Linked DNA regions of Homo sapiens: region 2 is linked to region 1. The links come from fine-mapping of genetic effects on plasma protein levels. Region 1 holds a variant in brackets. A gene starts in the other region. All regions are shown on their reverse strands. Region 1 has its middle 69 kb from the start of MIR3144. Region 2 holds the start of CBLIF (cobalamin binding intrinsic factor).

The links. PIP is the chance, under the fine-mapping model, that this variant and not a neighbour inherited with it causes the effect. The UK Biobank Pharma Proteomics Project read protein levels with antibody pairs (Olink). The fine-mapping took linkage between variants from a reference panel, not from the people measured, so its PIPs are less certain.
Region 2: CBLIF starts here. The variant in region 1 is fine-mapped to the plasma level of the CBLIF protein (UK Biobank, PIP above 0.99).

Annotation. Positions count from the first base shown.
Region 1 is chr6:119,940,697-119,951,724 of GRCh38, reverse strand. No RefSeq gene overlaps it. Among named protein-coding and RNA genes, the nearest start is that of MIR3144, 69 kb to the left of the region's middle. The variant G/A (reference allele first, on the strand shown) is at 6,300.
Region 2 is chr11:59,839,719-59,850,746 of GRCh38, reverse strand. CBLIF (cobalamin binding intrinsic factor) reads left to right here and starts at 5,248. Exons shown (of 9, transcript NM_005142.3): 1 at 5,248-5,372; 2 at 6,692-6,868; 3 at 7,606-7,719; 4 at 8,164-8,304; 5 at 9,423-9,604. The coding sequence starts at 5,294.

The DNA of each region.
Region 1 (11,028 bases):
GGGCCCCCATGGTGGGATTAGTGACCTTATAAGAAAAGGAAGAGAAACCAGAGCTTTCTCTCAGCCATGTGAGAACACAGCAAGAAGGCAGCTATCTGTGAGCCAGGAAGAGGGCCCTCAGCAGGAACTGAATCAGCTGGCAAGTTTATGTAGGACTTCTTAGCCTCTATAACTGTAAGAAATAAATGTCTATTGCTTAACAGTCCTTTAAGCCATCTCAGGCCACCCAGTCTGTTATGTTCTTATAGAAGTCCAAACAGACTAATATACGTAGCTACTCTATCAGTTTCCCTTTTATATGATTTTAGATATTTGCTCATGCATCAGGCAGAAACAGAGAAATTAATATAGCATATGGCAGTGCTCACTAAAAGAATGTGTACCTTATGAAAAGAAACCAAGAAAACACTTCATGGAGTTCCTGTAGAAGGACTAAACACTTTGTAGATTCTCAAGAATGAAAATTATTTTATTCAGCCATTCTCAGTGGAGATGGGGTTGGGGTGGGGGTGGGACTGGAGAGAGGAATGGGAAGAAGTGATAGGATCTGCTGGATAGCTTTATTTAAATATTCAGCTGAAGGCAGAACCCAGATATATGTATTAGGAATAAAATTCTTAAGAGTGGAGCTGGAACAAGGGTTAGGTGAATTAGGCACTCACCCTGAGCACAAAATTTAAGGGGGGGCATATAAAGCTCAGTAATAAAGAGAGAATATTTTAGTAATATTTTTTAAATGCAAAAAATTCATGATGAGAAGAATATCAAAATTGTAAATAAAGCCAGGATGTGACCCTCATTTTATGACCCTGACTCACCTGCCACACCCTAATCCCAGTTCTTGTTCAAATAAAATGTTATTTGTAAAAGCAGGAGTCACACATGGCCATTACTTGACAATTTAATTTTTAAAATATTTTAAAATATATCACACCACTTAAACATAATTCAATGTATTCACATATATATGTTATTTACATATTTACATTTACCTATAAAATTTGTCTTGATTCCTGTTTTTTGGCACCCCTTCAATTTTGCACTGCAAAATTTGCTTTAATCTGGTTCCACATCTAGAGAGAAATAAAAAACTCTGCTTGCCTTTCTTGAGAATTAATTCTCAGAAACTTTTTTTAATGTAAGCAAGAAAGAGAAAAAAAATATTACTTCAGCAGAACAATGTAACATGAAAGCCTACAGTTACCAGAAACTGAACTATACACTATACACATCTTTACACTGAACTGTACGCTACACACATCTAAACTCACTTTGCCATGGTAAGAGTCTATCATCACCCAAGTACATGAAGAGGCTCTAAAAACAATTATAGCAACCTATTTTTAACAAATGCTCGATATAACACTTATCTTCTTTCACATATGAATAATTAAACTAGTCTGGAAACTATTAAAGAGCGTAGTGCAAAAAAAAGTAGCATTATTATTCCAGATGAGAACTAATCTCTTGAAAATTAGCATAAGAAATGAATATTTTTCAAATATCTGCCTCAAGTCTTCAAACAAGTCAGAAATAAATGCAATTATAAGCCAATATTAAAATATTATAAGTAGTCCAGATGAAGGCAGTTAGCTAATGTGAAAGGTAAAATAAAATAGCAAGATAAAAAATAATTTTAAGATCATGAAAATCTAGTAGGTTAATTAAAACCTACTGTAAAAATAATTTAAAGATCAGGCATTACCCAGAAAATTAACTTTTAATTTTTTAATGTCGTAAAATGACCAGCATCAATGTTCTTTCAAATTTCAGAAGAAAAAAAATAAAAGAACAAAGATATGGCAATGCTAAGAAGATTTAACAGATATAGAGAAAGGAGAAGAATTTTTTCTTTTTCAAATATAGAGATTCTAGCAGAAAAAAAAAATCCCAATAAATTAAGCTAAATCTATAAGCAAATTTATGGGAAATAAAATCTATCACAATTTAAAAACATGAACTAAACATGCAGCTCGAAAATAGTTCATAAGATCTAAAATAAATGAACACTTGGACACAGGAAGGGGAACATCACACACCAGGGCCTATCGTGGGGTCGGGGGAGGGGGGAGGGAAAGCATTAGGAGATATACCTAATGTAAATGACGAGTTAATGGGTGCAGCACACCAACATGGCACATGTATACATGTGTAACAAACCTGCACATTGTGCGCATGTACCCTAGAACTTAAAGTATAATTAAAAAAGAAAAAGAAAATGGAAGTATCTTGGCAAATTTTTACATTTTACATTTTAAGGAAAATTGTTTGTGTGTGTGTGTGTGTGTGTGTGTGTGTGTGTATATACACACATATATAATTTATATGTATGGAATTAAATCAGGCTAACAATTAGAAATGTGTAAGAGTTGCTTAAAGAATGCCGTGAACTCTTTACTGTGGAATGAAAGAAAATGTAAATAAAAGAAAGGTATATAGTTCTAAAGTGAAATATAAATATTATAATAGCAGAATTTTTTCCTAATATATGGACAATGAAATTTCCAGCAAAATCTCGAAGGAGATATTCTCAAATTGATCAAGTGATTTAAAATACCATAAGGAAGAATGAATACATTAAAATGGCTATGAAACTAATTTAAGAATAAAATAATAAACACCATTGTCAAATATTCCATATATTTAGAAGATTTAATGATATTTTATGTGATAAAAATTCAGATGAATGAAGAAATCAATTATAATAGGAAACAAATGTAAGGTATATGTTAAAGTTTAATATATAAAGGAATGAGAATTTTTATCTTAAGTATCAAATGATTTGTTAAAAGTCACTTAGAAAAATAGTTACTTTAAACAAATATATCAAGTATAATTGTATCTTTCAAGATATCTCCAGATCAATTTATTTAAAAAATTAAGAGTAAAGAGGATGAGAAAAATAGATAAAAATCAAATGACTAGACTTAAAATAGGATAATATAACTGTAAACCTATCAGAAAGGCAGGGAAAAAAATGAAGTCAAAGAACAGTGTCAAGAAGCTAAAAAACAAAGTACAAAAAGAAAAAACTTGCACAAAATAAAAAGGATCCCCTGTGCACAGAATTTCATCTCTTTCAACCATACAGGGAAAATTTTGAAAGCAAAACAAAAGAAAACAAAAAAACAACCAAAAAGAAAACCTGTAGAGTTTTTCTCCAGTGAAATCACGGAATCTTTTTGCGAAGAACTAGAAAGTCTCAGAGTCATTTGTCCCCACAGCAAAAGCTCTCCACGTTATGTAATTTAGGAAGATTCAGTCCAATGCACACTCCCCACACCTCAGCTTAGGGAAGCTAGCCTTAATGCCTTTAGCAATTAGGAAGTAATAAAATAAAATAAAATAAACTGGGCTATCTTATTTGTAAGTATGTTTCATAACAGAAGCATATAGGACTTAAGTTACTAATTAAACCTGTCATTGAAAACACAGACATTAAATATACATTAATATATATTTTTGTACTGTGTTACTCCCTCTGTACAGAACAGGAGAGCCGGAATGTTTTCCTCCGCCCCAAAATTTCGATAATGAATTTTGGTTTTTGGAAAATACATATGTAATAGAGAATTTGGGCTTATACTCTTACCTAGGAGCAATATTTCATATCATTCATTATCAAAAACCTGAACAGAATCTTTGCAATATCTTAAAGTAATTCTAAGATATTGGTAAAATGCTGGTATTCTGTTGTTGTCATATTTGTTTTACATTACCATATGCACTGTAATTCAATAACATCTTTTCCTAAATCTTTGTTGCCACTATCAGGTTTGATGGAGAAAGGCAAACTCAATAATAGTTCCACTACGTAATGGTTTATATCAGAAACACATTTTTGAATTCAGTATTTACAGTACATTACAGGAAAAATATTTTAGGAAATCATGTTCATTTAAGAAAAAAATGTCAGCATAGACAAATGAGCCAAATGAGTTTCCCGTATAAGGGCACATACCACATAACATTATTTCAAGTCAACGACAGATCACACATACAGTGGTATTCCCATAAGATTATAATGGAGCTGAAAAATTCCTATCATCTAGTAATGTAGTAGTTATAACAATGTAGGGCAACACATTATTTGCATGTTCATAGTGATGCTGGTCTAAACAAACCTATGTGCTGCCAGTTGTATAAAAGTATAACACGTATGGTTAAGTACAGTACATAATACTTGATAATGATAACAAATGATTGTTATTGGTTTCCGTATTTACTAAACTTTTTATCATTATTTTGGAGCATACTGCTTCATCTTGCTATAAAAATTTAAGTATAAAACAGCCTCACGCAGGTCCTTCAGGAGACATTTCAGAAGAAGGCACCGTTATCATAGGAGATGACAGCCCCATGCATGTTCTTGTTCCTGGAGACCTTCCAGGGGGACAAGAGGTGGATGTGGAAGACAGTGATATTGATGATCCTGACCCTGTGTAGAATCTAATGTGTGTGTTTTTACCTCAGTTTTTAACAAAAGAAGTGTAAAAAAAAAGTTAAAAATGAAAAAAGCTTATAGAATAAAATATAAGGAATACCTTTTTGTACAACTGTATAAATGTATTTATATTTTAAGCCAAATGGTATTACAAAAGAGTTTAAAAAATAAAAGTTTATAAAGTGAAAGAGTACAATAAGCTAAGATTAATTTATTTTAAAGAAAAAAATATTTTGAATTAATTTAATATAGCCTAAATGTACAGTGTTTATAAAGTCTACACTCATGTATAGTAATGTCCTTGGCCTTCATGTTCACACATCACTCAGTCACCCAAACCAACTTCCTGTCCTGCAAGTACCCTTCATGGTAAGTGCCCTATACAGGTGTATCATTTTTTATCTTTTATACCACATTTTTACTGTTCCTTTTTATGGTTAGATGTTTTTAGATATACAAATACTTACCATTGTGTTACAATTGCCTACAGTATTCAGTACAGTAACATGCTGTACAGGTTTATAGCCTAGAAGCCATGGGCTATACCATATAGTCTAGATGTGTAGTAGGCTACACCTTCTAGGTGTATGTAAGTAACACCCTATAATGTTTGTACAAGGACAAAATCACCTAATGATAGATTTCTCCAAATGTATCTGCACCATAAGTGACACATGACTGTATATTTATTTGCCAGGGCAATCAAATTGATTTATACACTTATATGAATGCATGTGCACACACTTGCAGAGAAATTATATTTGGAAGAATATTTTAACTATGTGGGATAATGTCAACCAAAAGGTCAGTTACGTAATTCAACATTTGCTGGGTGATCTGGGGTAAGAATTTTGCTGTGGATGATATGAATATGTTGATTTCTTTCAACAGCATAAAATTTTCTTTAACTCTATATCCTTGCCAAGCTAAATAATTTCTTATTGTGTGTCTCGTCAGCTCAGCAAAACCTTGAGCAGACTAAGGTTTTAGATCTAAAAACATACCAAATTCTCTTCGTTCATTTAGTCATCCAACAAATAGTTATTGAGAACCTTTGATGTTAGAGACACTTTTCAAAACTCTGGGATTGAAAATAAAACAAACAAACAAATGAAACAGAATACAAAAACAATATGCCCTGTCCTCATGGAATTTACTTTCCAAGCATATATGTGGGTTTGAGTGTGTTGGGAGGATGGGGGCAGAAAATAATTTATATGGACAATAAGATGTATAGCTGTGAAGAAAAAGAAAAGCAGAAAATCAATATAAGGTGTGGTTTAGCAGGTGGCAGGGATGGGGGATTCTGTGTTAAATACGCTGGCTAGAGAAGACACCACTGAGAAATAAACTGGGAAATATCCAAATGGAGTGAAAGATCCAGTCCTTCAACTCTTTGTGAGAGAATTTTGAAAGCAGAGGGAAGAGCAAGTACAATGGCTCTAAGGCACAGAGCTGTTGTACATGTGGCCCGTAAAATGTCCAAAATGGATAAAGCAAAGGGGAGAGCATTAGAAGATGAGGTCAAAGTAGTCTGTTGGGGGTGGGGGCTGAATGGCATTGACTTTGTTGTGTGTAAGTCATGGGAAGGACTTGGATTTACTCTGAAATATAAAGACTTTTAAAATTTTAAGAAGAATTTCAGTTTATTATATGTTCTGTTCTCAAACTTTTTTTGACAAAACTATTTCTGGAAAATAATGTAACGTAAAAACATAAATTCCATATCTGCAAAATGTTATCTTTTTAAAAAGTCTAACATTGATCACCAGTTAAGTATTATCTATAAATACACTAGTTAATTTTGATCAATTTGCTTTAAAGTTTTCTCAACGCTAAAGATTAAGTAATTTGG[G/A]GCCTGTCATGGCTACCATCTCCAAATATTATTTAAACATACAAAAAATGTCAGTGATGATAAGTAGATACATTTAAATGGTTGGCATTGGCCAGGCGTGGTGGCTCATGCCTGTAATCCCAGCACTTTGGGAGGCCAAGGCGGGCGGATCATGAGGTCAGGAGTTTGAGACCAGCCTGGCCAACATGGCAAAACCCCGGCTCTACTAAAAATACAAAAATTAGCCAGGTGTGGTGGCATGAGCCTGTAGTCCCAGCTACTTGGGAGACTGAGGCAGGAGAATCACTTGAACCAGGAGGCAGAGGCTGCAGTACGCCAGGACCACGTCATTGCACTCCAGCCTGGGTGACAGAGTGAGACTCCGTCTCGAAAAAATAAATAAATGAATAAATAAATAAAAATAAAAATAAATAAATAAATAGTTGGCATTATTTATAGCTGTGTTATCATCAGCTACAAAACACAATGCCACAAATGACTTATTTTTTTCTCCCAGCACAGCCTGTAAATTCTTAGCCAAATCTCCAGTGTTAGTTACATTTTCAATGTTTGTTTCTGTTGAGGACATATAATTTCTATTGCCTCCAATGGATACTCTTTTATAAAACTACCATCTGTAATAAAAATGCCATCTGGGCAATTTTGTAACGAATTCATAGTAACATATTATAACAACATAACTTATTTTATATGTATTCAAAAATTAAGCCTGTGGAAATTTTAGTTCATATTTTAGTTCATTAAGATTTTTATCACGAATCTTTCCATAGATTCATGATAAGCTTTGTTTTTAGTGTGTGTGTGTGTGTGTGTGTGTATGTGTATAGGCACCTTCCAACATTTTGTTAACAGTATAAATATGTAAAAAAAAATAGTTTAAGAAATAATTGTTCTTTTTGGAAACAAATTGTGCTTTTTCTCTTTCTTGTGAACACGTTGAAAGATACACAATTGAAGGATGTCTGTCTCCAACTGGAAAAAAAAATAGCGCAAGCATGATGATGCATAGCAACCGATACTTGGGTTTAGGGTCAGGAAGACCAAAGGGCACACAAAGGACAGTGGCAATCTGGAGCACGTATATCCCATCTAAAAGCAGAAGCAACTACTTACTTTCTGACAATTGTTTTCATTCATAAATGCAAGTTCAGTTTACCAACTCTTCCACTTTGCAAAAAAAGTAAGCAATCTATATTTTTAGATAAAATCTACCAATTGTAATATATCTGAATAATTATTTTCAAAACATTGTACAGGCTAGGCAAGCTATGTCTGCAAGAGGTGTTTAGGCTGTTAGTAACCACTTTGTGATGCTCTAAAAGTTACAGCATCCACCTGATAAGATTTACAAAAGGAGAGAATACAGATAATATGGGAAAAGGAATGTTCAAGGAAACAAAAAGGAAAATTTCACAGACATCAAAAACATATGATTTATATCCAAAAGGGCCTGCATTTTAGAAGCAAAGTAAGAAAAATAATAGCAAAAACAAATTCTACATTAAAAAACAGAACAAACATGTAGACAAAATACTAAACAGCTTCCAGAGAAAATTGGAGGATAAAAGATTACATGCAAAAAATTATAATCAGATGGACCACAGTGTTGTCATTGACAACACTGGAAACAAGAAGACAAAGAATAAAAGTGTAAAATTTTAACAGAAACAATTTTAAGCAAGAATTCAGAAGAAGCATTATTTTCAGATAAGTGGGTTAACAAACATTACCACAAATTGGCCAGGTGAGGTGGCTCACGCCTGTAATCCCAGCACTTTGGGAGGCTGAGGCAGGCGGATCGTGGTCAGGAGATCAAGACCATCCTGGCCAACATGGTGAAACCCCGTCTCTACTAAAAATACGAAAAATTAGCCAGGCGTAGTGGTGGGCACCTGTAGTCCCAGCTACTCGGGAGGCGGAGGCAGGAGAATTGCTTGCACCCACGAGGCAGAGGTTGCGGTGAGCTGAGATTGTGCCACTGCACTCCAGCCTAGATGACAGAGCAAGGCTCTGTCTCAAAAAACAAAAAAAAAAGAAAAGAAAAAAGAAACGTTACCACAAATTGATTAATTTAAAAGCAAAAAAAAGTGGACATTTTCAAACAAGAAAATAATTTGGATTATACAAAACTGATACAAAAATTAGTAAGGTGTTTTTGTTTTTCGTCTCTTTTGATTTGTTTTGTTTTTCCCGAGATGGCAAATCAGAGTTTTTTAGCATGTCTCAGCCACTTGGAAATAGCAAGACAGCACACAAAGGTCAACTCTCTGAGCTTTAATTCAAGAAGGAAGATGGAAACCTATCAGAATCGTGAAGGACACCCTAGATCCTCCTTTGTATGGTGTGTGGCTCATAAAAGTTAGTAAAGTTCGAGTATGTGAGAGGCAGAGAGCCTCCCTCTGTGACTCACCTTCCCACTGTGGATCCAACAACCCAGGCCAAGAGAGAGCACTTTATTTCTCCCAAACTCCAGACCTAACTTGGGGAAAGGTTTGGAGGCTCTGAGAGAGAAAGAAGTTACAGGCAATTTCCCAGACCTGGGACTGAGAGCAGGATCGCATTTTAAATCCAGGTGCATACAAAGTTATGGCAACTCAGAAGCATAGCTGTGCAGGCATTTTTGCCTTGGAGCAGAGATTGGAGCACTTGTTCTGGAGAAGCATAGAGGCTTCCACAGCCAGAATTATGTAAAGTACGTCAGCAGTAGGTACTGGAACTGTGCTCTCCTCAGTTACAGGCCTGGTGTGGGAGAAGAGTTGCTATGCTTGAAATTTCTTTTGGGAGATGAGACTTGCAGCCAGGACCAGTTTGATGCCTGGAACCGGTCTGCATGTGTCATTGCTAATTGCTGCAGCCTGCTTCCTGAGATTGTGTGGCTTCCTAGCCACACACCTAGGCATACCTCTGGGTGCTGGGTGACCACTCACTGGATTCTCCCCTGGCATTAGTGCTTGTGCCTGCCATCAGGGGAACTATAGGTGGGCCTGCCCAGTCTGTCTCTAACCATTCTGCCCCCTGCTGCCCTAGGATTTAGCAGGGAGCTCAGACCACTGTGAACTCCATGGTCAGCCCATTGCTTGGGACAACAGAGAGCGTCTTCCAGTAAACAAGGATGAATTATATACCCAGCCAGGTTATCCACAGCTGGCTGTTACCCATATGCACCATCTACTGGTTTGTAAGTCAAAGAACACAGCCCAGTATAAAACCTGCTGACAGAAGTGCATAGGGCTGTAGAAGCAAAGCCAAAATACCCAACCTAACATTTGCTACTTTCACACTCACTAGGAAGAAGGGGAAAGGGAAAGGGAAAGAAAAAAATGACATTATAAAGTGGCTCACACCTGTAATCTGAGCACTTTGTGAGGCTGAGGTTGGAGAATCTCTTGAGCCCGGGAGTTCAAGACCAGCCTGGGAAAAAGTAAAACGTTGCCTCTCCCCTGCTCCCCCCACCAAAAAATAGCCAGGTATGGTGGTGTGTACCTGTAGTCTCAGCTACTAGGGAAGCTGGGGTGGGAGGATCAGTTGAGCCAAAGATGTGGAGGATGTAGTAAGGCATAATCACACCACTGCATTCCAGCCTGGGTGACAGAGCAGAACTATGTCTAAAGGAGAGAGAGAGAAAGATTGAATTCTGCCCACATGAAAATAATTACAAAAATTAGAAGTGCCAGGATCTCCAGATAAGAAGGAACCAGGGCAAGAATTCTGGCACCATGAAAAATGAGAATGTAGTGACAACACTGAAGCATCACATTGACTCTCCACAATGGTCCCTAATGAAATTGGAAACTGAGAAATGACAGATAAAGAATTCAAAGCATAGATTGCAAGGAAGCTAAACAAGATCCAAGATAATGTTGAGAATCAACACAAAGAAACCTCTAAATCAATCCAGAAAATTAAGAAAGAGATATACATCTTAAAAAGAAATCAATCAGAGTTTCTGGAATTGAAAAAAAGTTACTTCAGGGATTTCAAAATATAATTGGAAGCTTTATCAAGACACTGGACCAAGAAAAAGAATTTTAGAACTTGAAGACCAGTCTTTTGAACTATTCCAGTCATACAAAAATGAACAAAGTCTTAAAGAAATATGGGATTGCATAAGCAACAAAACCTATGAATTCTTGGCATTTCTGAGAGAGAGAAAAAAGTAACAACCTGAATAACATATTGGAAGGAATAGCTCAAGAAAATCTCCCTAATCTTGCAAAAGAGTAGCTCAAGAAAATCTCCCTAATCTTGCAAAAGAGTAGACATCCACATACAAGAAATCCAGAGCACACCTGTTAGATGTTATGCAAAATAAACATGACCAAGGTATATAGTAGCCAGATATTCAAGGTCAATATTAATGAAAAAAATCTTAAAGGCAGCTAGAGAAAAAGATCAGATCACATAAAAAGGGAACTTCACAAAGCTAACAGCAGGCTCCTCAGCAGCAAACTTACAAGCTAGAAGAGGATAGGAGCCTATTTTAAGCATTCTCAAAGAAAAGAAATTCCAAAAAATAATTACATATCCCACAAAACTGAGCTGCATAAGGCAAAGGAGAAATAATTTTCCAGACAAGCCAACATTCAGGGAATTCATTACCACTAGATCAGCCTTAAAAGAGATTCTTAAGGGAGCTCTAAACATGGGAATGAAAGAATGATGACTGCTACCACAAAATCATACTTAATTTTAGAGCCCACAGACCGTAAAAAGCAACCACAAAGTAGAA
Region 2 (11,028 bases), not on the chromosome of region 1:
GATTCTATCCCTTGGGTCTGTGTCTCATCTTTAAAGCTAAGTTAGAAAATATATACACCTACTGTGTACCCACAAAAATTAAAAATATAATAACAATAATAATAATAATAATAATAAAGCTAAATTAGAGAAGCTGGGAGCCATGTTACCCTTCCAGGATCCCTGGTGCTGTTAATCGTCAGATCTGTTTGTAGCCTATACAAGCTATGTGAAATTGAAGGATACTGGTTTAAGGTGAGAAATATGCAAAATGTCAGAATTGCATACTAGCAATTAGCACTACTAGCATTTATTTCTAACAGACAGAGCCTAGTTTCTCCCAGCCAGAGGTCTTAAAGTATAATGTAGGCCGGACGCAGTGGCTCACGCCTGTAATCCCAGCACATTGGGAGGCTGAGGCAGGTGGATCACTAGGTCAGGAGATCGAGACTATCCTGGCCAACATGGTGAAACCCCGTCTCTACTAAAAATGCAAAAATTAGCAAGGTGTGGTGGCATGCGCCTGTAGTGCCAACTACTCGGGAGGCTAAGGCAGGAGAATCGCTTGAATCTGGGAGGCGGAGGCTGCAGTGAGCCGAGAATGCGCCACTGCACTCCAGCCTGGGAAACAGAGCTAGACTCTGTCTCAAAAAAAAAAAAAGTATAATGTAGTAAGTAACATTGCTGTCTGATATAAATGCCTTTAATCTCAGAAGTAGACATGAAATAACACTCCCTTAGGGTTCCACTAACATCGGCCCTTGAAACCTAGTTCTGAGGACAGGCGTGGTGGCTCATGCCTGTAATCCCAGTACTTTGGGAGGCCAAGGCAGGCAGATAACTGAGGTTAAGAGTTTGAGACCAGCCTGGCCAACATGGCGAAACCCCACCTCTACTAAAAATACAAAAATTAGCTGGGCATATTGGCAGGCAATTGTAATCCCAGCTACTCAGGAGGCTGAGGCAGGAGAATCACTTGAACCCGGGAGGCAGAGGTTGCAGTGAGCTGAGATCACACCATTGTACCCCAGCCTGGGCAACACAGCCAGACTCCATCTCAGAAAAACATAAAAATAAAAATAAAAATAAGAAACCTAATTGGCCACACTTGCCTTACAAGAAGCTCCTACAGCTTGAGACTATTACAGAACCTGAACTGAGTCTGAAGAGAGAAACTTCCTTTTGCTGCCACAGCAAAGAATAATCACCACAAATAAACCTCACTTATGTCCAGAGAGAGTCTAGGTGCTTTGATACCAAAATATTAGGCACAGGAGAAACAAGGAAATAAATGAACACATCATCCCAGTCAATAGTTAACCAAGGACTGTCAAAATATCCCTGTTAAGAAATGTATGGCCTGTGTGGTTCCTGTTCTGGGAATTATTTACTAACTGCAACAATTGTGTCACGATCAATCTTGCAGCAGCCCTGGTTGTAAATGGTAATTTATAATACAAGGAAGTGAGTGGTTAAAGAGCTGGCAGGCCAAGGGTGTGTGGATCATCTCAGGACGATCAGGAGCAGGCTCTGGAATGCAAAGTCAGCACCATACTGTACTCATAATCCTGTATTAGATTCTTATTGTTGCTGTAACAGATTACCACTAATTTTGTTATTTAAGACAAATTTATCATCTCACAGTTCTGGAAGTCAGAGTCTCACTGGGCTAAAATCAAGGTGTCGAAGGAGCTGTGTTCCTTCTAGAGGTGGCAGCAGTAAACCAAGTTCTTTCCCTACTTTGTATGGGTCACAAAGAAGGAACATGCAATTGGACAAAAGCAATTGGGTCGTATTCACTGGCCAGGGAATGGAGAAGGGGAGCTCTCGCTCTAAAGGCGCATTCTCCTTAAGCAATGGGAAGCAGGGAAATTTTCAAGAGTTAGACATGGGGCAGGGAGGTATGTAAGCAGGCCGAGGGTGGAGTTCCAAACACGCAGGCGCAGTCCCCAGACATACTTCTTCATACCTCGCATGTACACAAAATGGCAGCGATTTTCTTTTAAGGGAGAGGAATCTAGTATTATAATGATATGTTAATGATCTAAAAGTAACTAGGGGTTGCCGGTTCTGGTTTGCACCGGTCTGGTGCAGGTCTTATCTTCCTCTGGTATTTGGCAAGGGATCATGAAGCTCCTGAAGCATCCTGGGCCATCTGGAGCTCTTTAAGCAGTGGCATCTATAGATAAAAAGGCTAAGGGGACATCCCATTACTGGGTATATACCCAAAGGACTATAAATCATGCTGCTATAAAGACACATGCACACATATGTTTATTGTGGCACTATTCACAATAGCAAAGACTTGGAACCAACCCAAGTGTCCAACAATGATAGACTGGATTAAGAAAATGTGGCACATATACACCATGGAATACTATGCAGCCATAAAAAATGATGAGTTCATGTCCTTTGTAGGCACATGGATGAAATTGGAAATCATCATTCTCAGTAAACTATTGCAAGGACAAAAAACCAAACACCGCATGTTCTCACTCATAGATGGGAATTGAACAATGAGAACACATGGACACAGGAAGGGGAACATCACACTCTGGGGACTGTTGTGGGGTGGGGGGATGGGGGAGGGATAGCATTAGGAGATATACCTAATGCTAAATGATGAGTTAACGGGTGCAGCACGCCAGCATGGCACATGTATACACATGTAACTAACCTGCACATTGTGCACATGTACCCTAAAACTTAAAGTATAATTAAAAAAAAAAGAAAAAAAAGGAACAGGGACAATCTTAAAAAAAAAAAAAAGGCTAAGGGAAAACAACAGTTTAAGAAAATAAGAAGCCCTCCCAGCTATTTCCGTAGGGCTCCCCTAGTAACAGAGCTTGTGAAGAAGAATCCATTTCCTTGCCTTTTCCAGCTTCTGGAGGCTGCCCACGTTGCATGGCTCATGGCCCCTGTCCACCTACAAAGCCAGCAATTGCATCATTCTGACTTCTGCCTCTAACATCACATTTGCTTTTCTGATTCTAACGCTCTTGCCTTCCTCTGCCACTAACAAGGACCTCTGTGATGACATTGAGCCCACCCAGATGATCCAAGCTAACCTTCCTCTCTTAAAGTCAGCTCATTAGCCACCTTAATTCCATGTGCATCTTTAATTCTTCCTGGCCATATAACCCACGTAACATGTTCACAAGTTCCAGGGATTAGGGCATGGGCATTTGGCGGTGTGTGGGCAGTGCCATTATTCTGCCTCCTACTCCTTCACACAGCATGCAAGGCTGTCCACCAAGTAGATGCCAACTGTCTTTCCAGCCTCATCTTCCACCATGTACCATGTATTGGATATATATTGCTGCATAACAAGTGACTTTAAAACTTAGGGGCCTAAGACAACATTTATTATCCCACAGTTTCTGTGGGTCAGGAGTCCAGGGAGGGTTTACATGGGTCCTCTGGCTTAGGAGGGTCTCTCCCAGGGCTGCAATCAAGATGTCAGCTGGGGCTGCCTTCATCTCAAAGCTCACTGGGGAAGGGTTCTTTTCTCCCTGAATATCGGCTGGAGGCTACTCTCAGGGGCCATATGTGGGCTTCTCCATAAGGCAGCTCACACTTAGCAGCTGCCTTCATGAGAGCAGGAAGGGCAAGAGAGAGAAGGCAAGCAAGAGGGAAATCGGTCTTTTGCAACCACATCCCATCACCTTTGCTGCATTATATTCATTATAATAGAATGTGGCCCCAGGCCAGCCCACACTCTAGGGAAGAGGACTACACAAGGCATGAATACCGGGAGGTGAAAACACAGGGCCATGTTAGAAGTTGTCCAGCACACCCCAGTATGTACCCTGTGCTCTCATCTCACAAAACTCACCCATGTTTCCCAAGGGGGAAAAAATGCTTTATTACCCATGTCTTACATTTGCTCATTAATTCACTCATTCAAAAAGTATTTTATTTCTACTGTGAGCTAGGTAGTGTTGTAAGGGCTAAGGATAGAGCAGTGAGCCAAAGAGACAAAGCCCCTCCCTCGTGGAGCAGACATTCTAGTAGGGAGATAAACAAACGATAAACAACCACACACTTAGTGCGACAGAGGGCAATGAGTTATAGCAGGCGAGGGGCATGAGGGGTGTCAGTGGAGGTGAGGATGTAGGATCTTATGTAGGGTGGCCTGGGAAGGCGTCTCTAAAAGCTTACCTCTGAGCAGAGACATGAAGGATGTGAGGAAGCCACCATGAGGCTATTTAAAAGAAGAGGGTCCTGGGCTGAGGGGGACATCATGTGCAAAGGTAGCTGATGTGTTCAAGGGGCACAAGAAGTTCTGTGTGATGGGAGCGGTGTGAGCAAAGGGGAAAACGCCTGGAGCTGAGGTCAGAAAGGAAACCAGGAGCCAGATCTTCTAAGGTCTTATAGGTCATGAAAAGGGCTTTGACTTTTATGCTAAGATGGGCGCCACTGGAGAATATCCCCTTAAAATGAGCTACTTTACATGCAGGAAAAAAACAAACAAAACTCCTTTCTTTATAATTTCAACATACCATTTTCAGTTCTCCCTTATAAAGAAGTATAATTTGCATTATAATGTAGCTACACATCTGAAATATGTATTCTTAATGGATCTCACATTTTCTAATTACTTACTTTAAAAGATAATATCTGAAAGCTTTGGGTGTTTGAGATGGCTTTTATCTCCAGATAAGGAAAGAGAAATCAAACAAAACCATTTCTGGGAAACCGAGGTCCATTTCTTGCCTAAAGTCAAACAACTTCAAAGAGTCTAGGCTAGAATCCAGGTCCAGGTAGACATCATTAATTTCACAAAGCCAGATGTCACCTGGCAGATCCCTGCCTGAGAGCCTAAAAGGACATGTTGTAAAGCAGGTGTCTAGGATCATAAAATGAGCTGATGCCTATGAATGGCCTAAATCCCAGTGAAGTAGTTACTAAAAAGCAGCCTGGTAACTGATTGGATACAATAAGGGCTAGAAGAGGTCTTGTTGATACTAGCACATTATCCAAACTTCCTGATGTCTGACCCAGGCCTTTGGTAAAGGACATTTTCTCAACATTGCCTTCACTGCATACCCAGCCCCAGGTTTCTCATATGACTGTGCAACCTAGAAGTCACCTTCAGACACCTTGGAGGGTCTATAGTCGGTAAACTTAGATAAGCAAATGAAAATTTACTTACTTGTATCAGGAAAGGAGAGGTCAGCACAGGGGCAGTTAGGAGAGGCTGGGTTGGGGACAGATTATTTAACAAAGGGAAGCACATATAAGAGAAGGTAAAGAAATATTCCACTTGCAAATCGCGGTACCTGTGGATGAGAGACATAGACGAGAGAGTGAGATGGCCTGGTTTGCCCTCTACCTCCTGAGCCTTCTCTGGGCTACAGCTGGGACTAGTACCCAGACCCAGAGTTCATGCTGTGAGTATGATGTTTTTCCAAGGAGGTCAGGGAAGCAGTTGCCCTGGGGAAGGGGCTGTGACCTCTGACACTGAGTGGTTGAAAATAGCAATCACTATAGGAATTCCAAAATGGGTAAGTCTGAGTGTGATTGTGTGCTGTTCATCCTTCCTGACTTAATAGCATAAGTTCTTTGAGAGACAAGTCTATATGTTTTTTATTAAGAGAGATGGGGCCAGGTGCAGTGGCTCACACCTGTAATCCCAGCACTTTGGGAGACTGAAGCAGGAGGATTGCTTGAGCCCAAGAGTTCAAGACCAGCCTGGGCAACATGGTGAGACTCCATCTCTACAAAAAAAATAAATAAATAAAAATAAAAAATTAGCTGGGCGCAGTGGCATGCACCTGTGGTCCCAGCTACTCAGAAAGCTGAGGTAGGAGAATCGCTTGAGCCCAGGAGGTCGAGGCTGCAGTGAGCTATAATCACACCACTGCACTCCAGCCTAGATGACACAGCAGCACCCTGTCTCAAAAAATCAATAAATAAAAATAATAGAGATGGAAGTACTACTGCAGGAATAATGGTTGATGGTACAAAGACAGACACTCAGTGGCTATTGTGACCAGACACCACTACATACTAGTGAGAGATTTTGGTACTCACTGAGGATAAATTATATCCCAAATCTTTAATACTCTTCATGAAAGAGTAAGGAAAAAAATGAATGCAAGGAAATCAGTGATTTCCAGGAAAGTGATAGAAACTATGAGAAATGTCATGAGCCATATTGCTTGAAGTTACTAAATTTAAAAATCACTTTCTTAAGGATATGGATTATTTGAGAAGATGTAGAAACTAATTGTCCTCAAAAGTAAAATCTCACCATTTTCTCCATTTCTCTTTAGTGACTTAGGACACTAATGCTAATCAAGTGTTCTCCTAAAAGGCATCAAAGATGGCCAGGCGAGGTGGCTCACGCCTGTAATCCCAGCACTTTGGGAGGCCAAGAAGGGTGGATTACCTGAGGTCAGAAATTCGAGACTACCCTGGCCAACATGGTGAAACCCCATCTCTACTAAAAATACAAAAATTAGCCTGGCGTGGTGGTGCACACCTGTAATCCCAGCTACTCAGGAAGCTGAGGCAGGAGAATCACTTGAACCTGGGAGGCAGAGTTTGCAGTGAGCCGAGATCGTGCCATTGCACTCTAGCCTGGGCAACAAGAGTAACACTGTCTCAAAAAAAAAAGAAAGAAAGAAAAAGCATCAAAGACACGGGGATAATGTTTTTGAGAAGGAATGAGGGTTAGAAGGTGAGTAAATGGCTTTCCTCTTCTCAGCCGTTCCCTCAGCACAGGAGCCCTTGGTCAATGGAATACAAGTACTCATGGAGAACTCGGTGACTTCATCAGCCTACCCAAACCCCAGCATCCTGATTGCCATGAATCTGGCCGGAGCCTACAACTTGAAGGCCCAGAAGCTCCTGACTTACCAGCTCATGTCCAGCGACAACAACGGTGAGACATCTGAGCCGCTCGCACTCTCCCTGAATCTCACACATCACATACCACCTCCAGATTCCAACTCAGCGTCCTTCCCACCCCAATGCTGCCTCTGACTGTAAATAAACTACCCAAACACCTTTCCTTACATACCTGGAAGGTACCTGGAAAGAAACATGTGTGAAGTCAGAGCATTCATGGAGGAGGTCAGTAAAGCAGGGAGAGCTCTGGACTAGACGTCGAAAGAGCAGCCTTCTGGTTCTGGCTCTGCCACGTCATAACTCTGGGATCTGAGACAAGTCACTGGATACTGCTCAGCCTCACCTTGCAGATGATTGTAGTAACAATAACCCTACTACTACTAATAGCAATGATAATAATAATAAAATCTCTGTTCTGCCTATCTCCCAGGAGCTGCCTGCAGGCTCAAGTTAGATAAAGTTTAAATTATTTTGCAACTGTAAATTTCTGTATATAAATCTATATGAGTATTTTGCTGCTTTTCTAATCAAATACCAGGGATTCTCAAATACCAAATACTAGAGTCATCAAGTTACACAGAGGCCACTAGATTAAATATTCCCTTACGTATTCTTCCATATTTTTTTCTTTGGAAAGACAGATCAAAGAACTGCTCATATTATTAAAAAGTCAAAATGCTCTAGATAAAAAGCAGAGAACTCATCACTGGCTCCTGGAGAGCTGTCCCCTGAGGATGTCTCTGTCTAACCGTTGTGTTCTCTTCTCTGCAGATCTAACCATTGGGCAGCTCGGCCTCACCATCATGGCCCTCACCTCCTCCTGCCGAGACCCTGGGGATAAAGTATCCATTCTACAAAGACAAATGGAGAACTGGGCACCTTCCAGTAAGACCTGACTGGAAGGGAGAAAAGAGTCAGGCATATGGTTTTACCTAAGAATTTTAAACCCAGAAAGGAAAAGGGTGGGGGTGGAGAGAAAGGCAAGTTAGGGAAGAGACAATGTATCCTTCACTCTGGTCCTTCTGATAATCCAGACCAGAAAGATTCATTTCCAATCCAAAATGAACTAGAAAAGGTCATGATCCCAAGGACACAAGCTTGTCCAGCCATCACCTGTCTAAAGACACAGAGTCATCCCTTTTATTCTTTGCAGATGCCTGATGACATTCTTTTGAAAAACACTGAAGTTGCTCTTTGCCTATGCTGTGTCTCTCTTTGGGGGCAGGTTTTCTAGCAATTTCCTTTTCAAAGGCTTGGCTTTTCCTTCTTTGCAAATGTCCTCATCGTGGTGACTGTGAGTCTGATGAAGGTTCTCTATCCCCTTCGGAGGCCCCAACGCTGAAGCATCAGCCTTCTATGGGCCCAGTCTAGCGATCTTGGCACTGTGCCAGAAGAACTCTGAGGCGACCTTGCCGATAGCCGTCCGCTTTGCCAAGACCCTGCTGGCCAACTCCTCTCCCTTCAATGTAGGTGAGTAGGTCACCACTACCCCGAGCTGGGAACATCAGAGGCATCGTGAACTGAATGGTGGAGCTGGCAGGGAAGTGACAAAGGAGAGCGTCCCATGGAGGAGGAGCTAAGGATGTGAACGTGCCTGTGGATGGGAGATATTTACCAGATGTTTGTTGGGCAGGTGAATTGAGGAGTAAGTGAAGGAAGAGGGGGTAGTATTATGTAGAAACAAGGACAATTGATAATACTTGATATGTCTGGCAGCTACAGAATCTCCGCTGGGAACAATAGTAATGCCATTCAAGTCAGAAGTTCTTCCCAAATTAAATATGAATGTCTTGCTTCAGTTCTCCTCTGCATCCTCTCTTTAATCACTACTGATGCTCCCACACTCCATTCTTTTCGATGCTTCTCCTCATTACATCCAAATATCCTCTCTCCATTAAACAGCTACTCTCGGAACCCTAACTCGTGATATTTCCCTTCATGGCAACTCGGGGACCACCTTGCGTCTTTGTTCTGCAAGCATATGGCTGCTTGTGAATAGAAGCTTTTCCCTCTACAACATCATGTCCTCCTTCTGTCCCCTTCTATGGATAATGATCCTTCTCTGTGGGGGCCACTGTCACAGCCCGCATTCATGATCACCTTTTCTCCTCTGCCAACTCTCTAAGCAATAGTATTATCTCAGGTTTTCACTCCCTTATGCATGCCCCATCAGCAACCTCTCTTGTTTCAGTTTCTGTCAGACAAACAGGTGAACCACTGCTCTAGGATCCTCCCTGGGGGTTAAGAACAGACTGGTCTCCCTTTCACATCTGGGACCTCACACATTTCTGGGGCATCTCTGCCTCCAAAAATTTGGACTTATTTACTTCTGGTTGTCAGTAACACTAGCACCCTTAACGAAGTTATGCAACTTTCAAATGGAGATTTGGCCCTGCTGCTTACTTAATTTTTCTGAGCCTCCATTTTTTGTCTCTTAAATGGAGATGATTACAGGTACTGTTTCACAGGTTGTTCTGAGGAGCAAATAAAATCATGGAGCCAGAATATAATAAGCACACAATAAATGTTAGCTGTTCATATTGCTGTGATGGTGACTATGGTGATCTTATACCCTCTGTCATTCACAGACACAGGAGCAATGGCAACCTTGGCTCTGACCTGTATGTACAACAAGATCCCTGTAGGTTCAGAGGAAGGTTACAGATCCCTGTTTGGTCAGGTACTAAAGGATATTGTGGAGAAAATCAGCATGAAGATCAAAGATAATGGCATCATTGGAGACATCTACAGTACTGGCCTCGCCATGCAGGTAAACACGTGCTGGATGCTCTTGGTTGGGTTCCTGCCAATAAGCCTGGATTGCAGAATCAAGAGGCCAGGCTTCTACTAACATCTCTGTGAAAGTCCAGCTAGTATGACCTGAGATATATTCTTTGTGGTGCCTGGGCCTCAGTTTCTCTACTGGTAAAATGCAGGTAAGTGTTAATTCCTCCCTACCTCCTATGTAAAGTGTGAAAACAAATCTATATGAACTTGTTTCTCTTTCTTGGGAAAAAAAATGAAACAAATAAATCAAGAAATATATTAATTTATTATTAATAATGATCAGTTTATTTGTAATAGTTACAGACTATTACAATTTTGATGTATAAATAATAAGAATATTAAAGCAGGCCCTCTAAAAATATACAATTTTCTGATGCAATCTTACCAGCCAAGTGTTCTTTTTCAGTGTTTTACCTTGATCTAAAAATAGCAAGTTTATACTCAAAATGATTAAGGAAAATAACCTAAAGTTGACCCAGCCTCACAAAAACCCATAGTAAATGGTAAAGCAGATCTATCTGTCAGCCAAGTCCATATTCAATTCTGTGCTTTCACAGCATGCATTCCCAGGCTTGGATTCTGTAAGATGTGTTTGGTATTCATAGTTCCAAATCCAACAACCCACCCTACCCTAGTTGATTAGGGCAGCAGCCTCCATAGAAGACAGATGCACCAATGGTGGTGGGCAGAAATAACCAACTAGAATCAGAAACTAGCAACCATCTGTGGCTGAATCCTCTAATCCCAACTAAGAAGTTTGAGCTCCAGTGTCTCAAAATGTCCTATGGGGATTAATAGGACCAGGGACTCTTCAACTCAGAAAGCCCACTAAAGGGAGAATCATGGAATGGTGATGCCAGCCCTAAACCTAACATAGTTGCGGACTATTAGAAAGAAATTGTCTCCTGGGGAAAACAATGGAGACTAGTATTGAGATTTCATACATTAAAAATTAGAAAAGGATATAAGCAGCCTAAGAATTGGTTCATGTTAAACATAAGAGCAAAAAAAAAAAAATTTCCACTTCAATGGACCACATATAGAAGTGACTAATAAAAATAGAGTTCATTTCTATGTCACAGTCAAGGAGACTTTGTCATAGAACAAAACCCTGTTTTTTCCATGGCTGAATTTTACAAGAACATTCCCAGTGCTCTGGTCTAGAAGCTTTTTGGAAAGAAAAAGGCAGTCTGGAAGAGATATAAAAGATGGTTTGGGGATTTTTTTTTTTTATGTGTGACTCTCTAAAAATAACCTTGCTTCAATTTATCACCAGACAGTGAAGTGTTTACTTTTGCTAACTTGGTTTGTGAATTCTGTTTGGATTTTATCACCTGCCAAGTACACTTTGATAAGCTGTACCTGGGAATTAGAGCTTTTCCTATCAAAAGGCAGGACCCTGTCTAC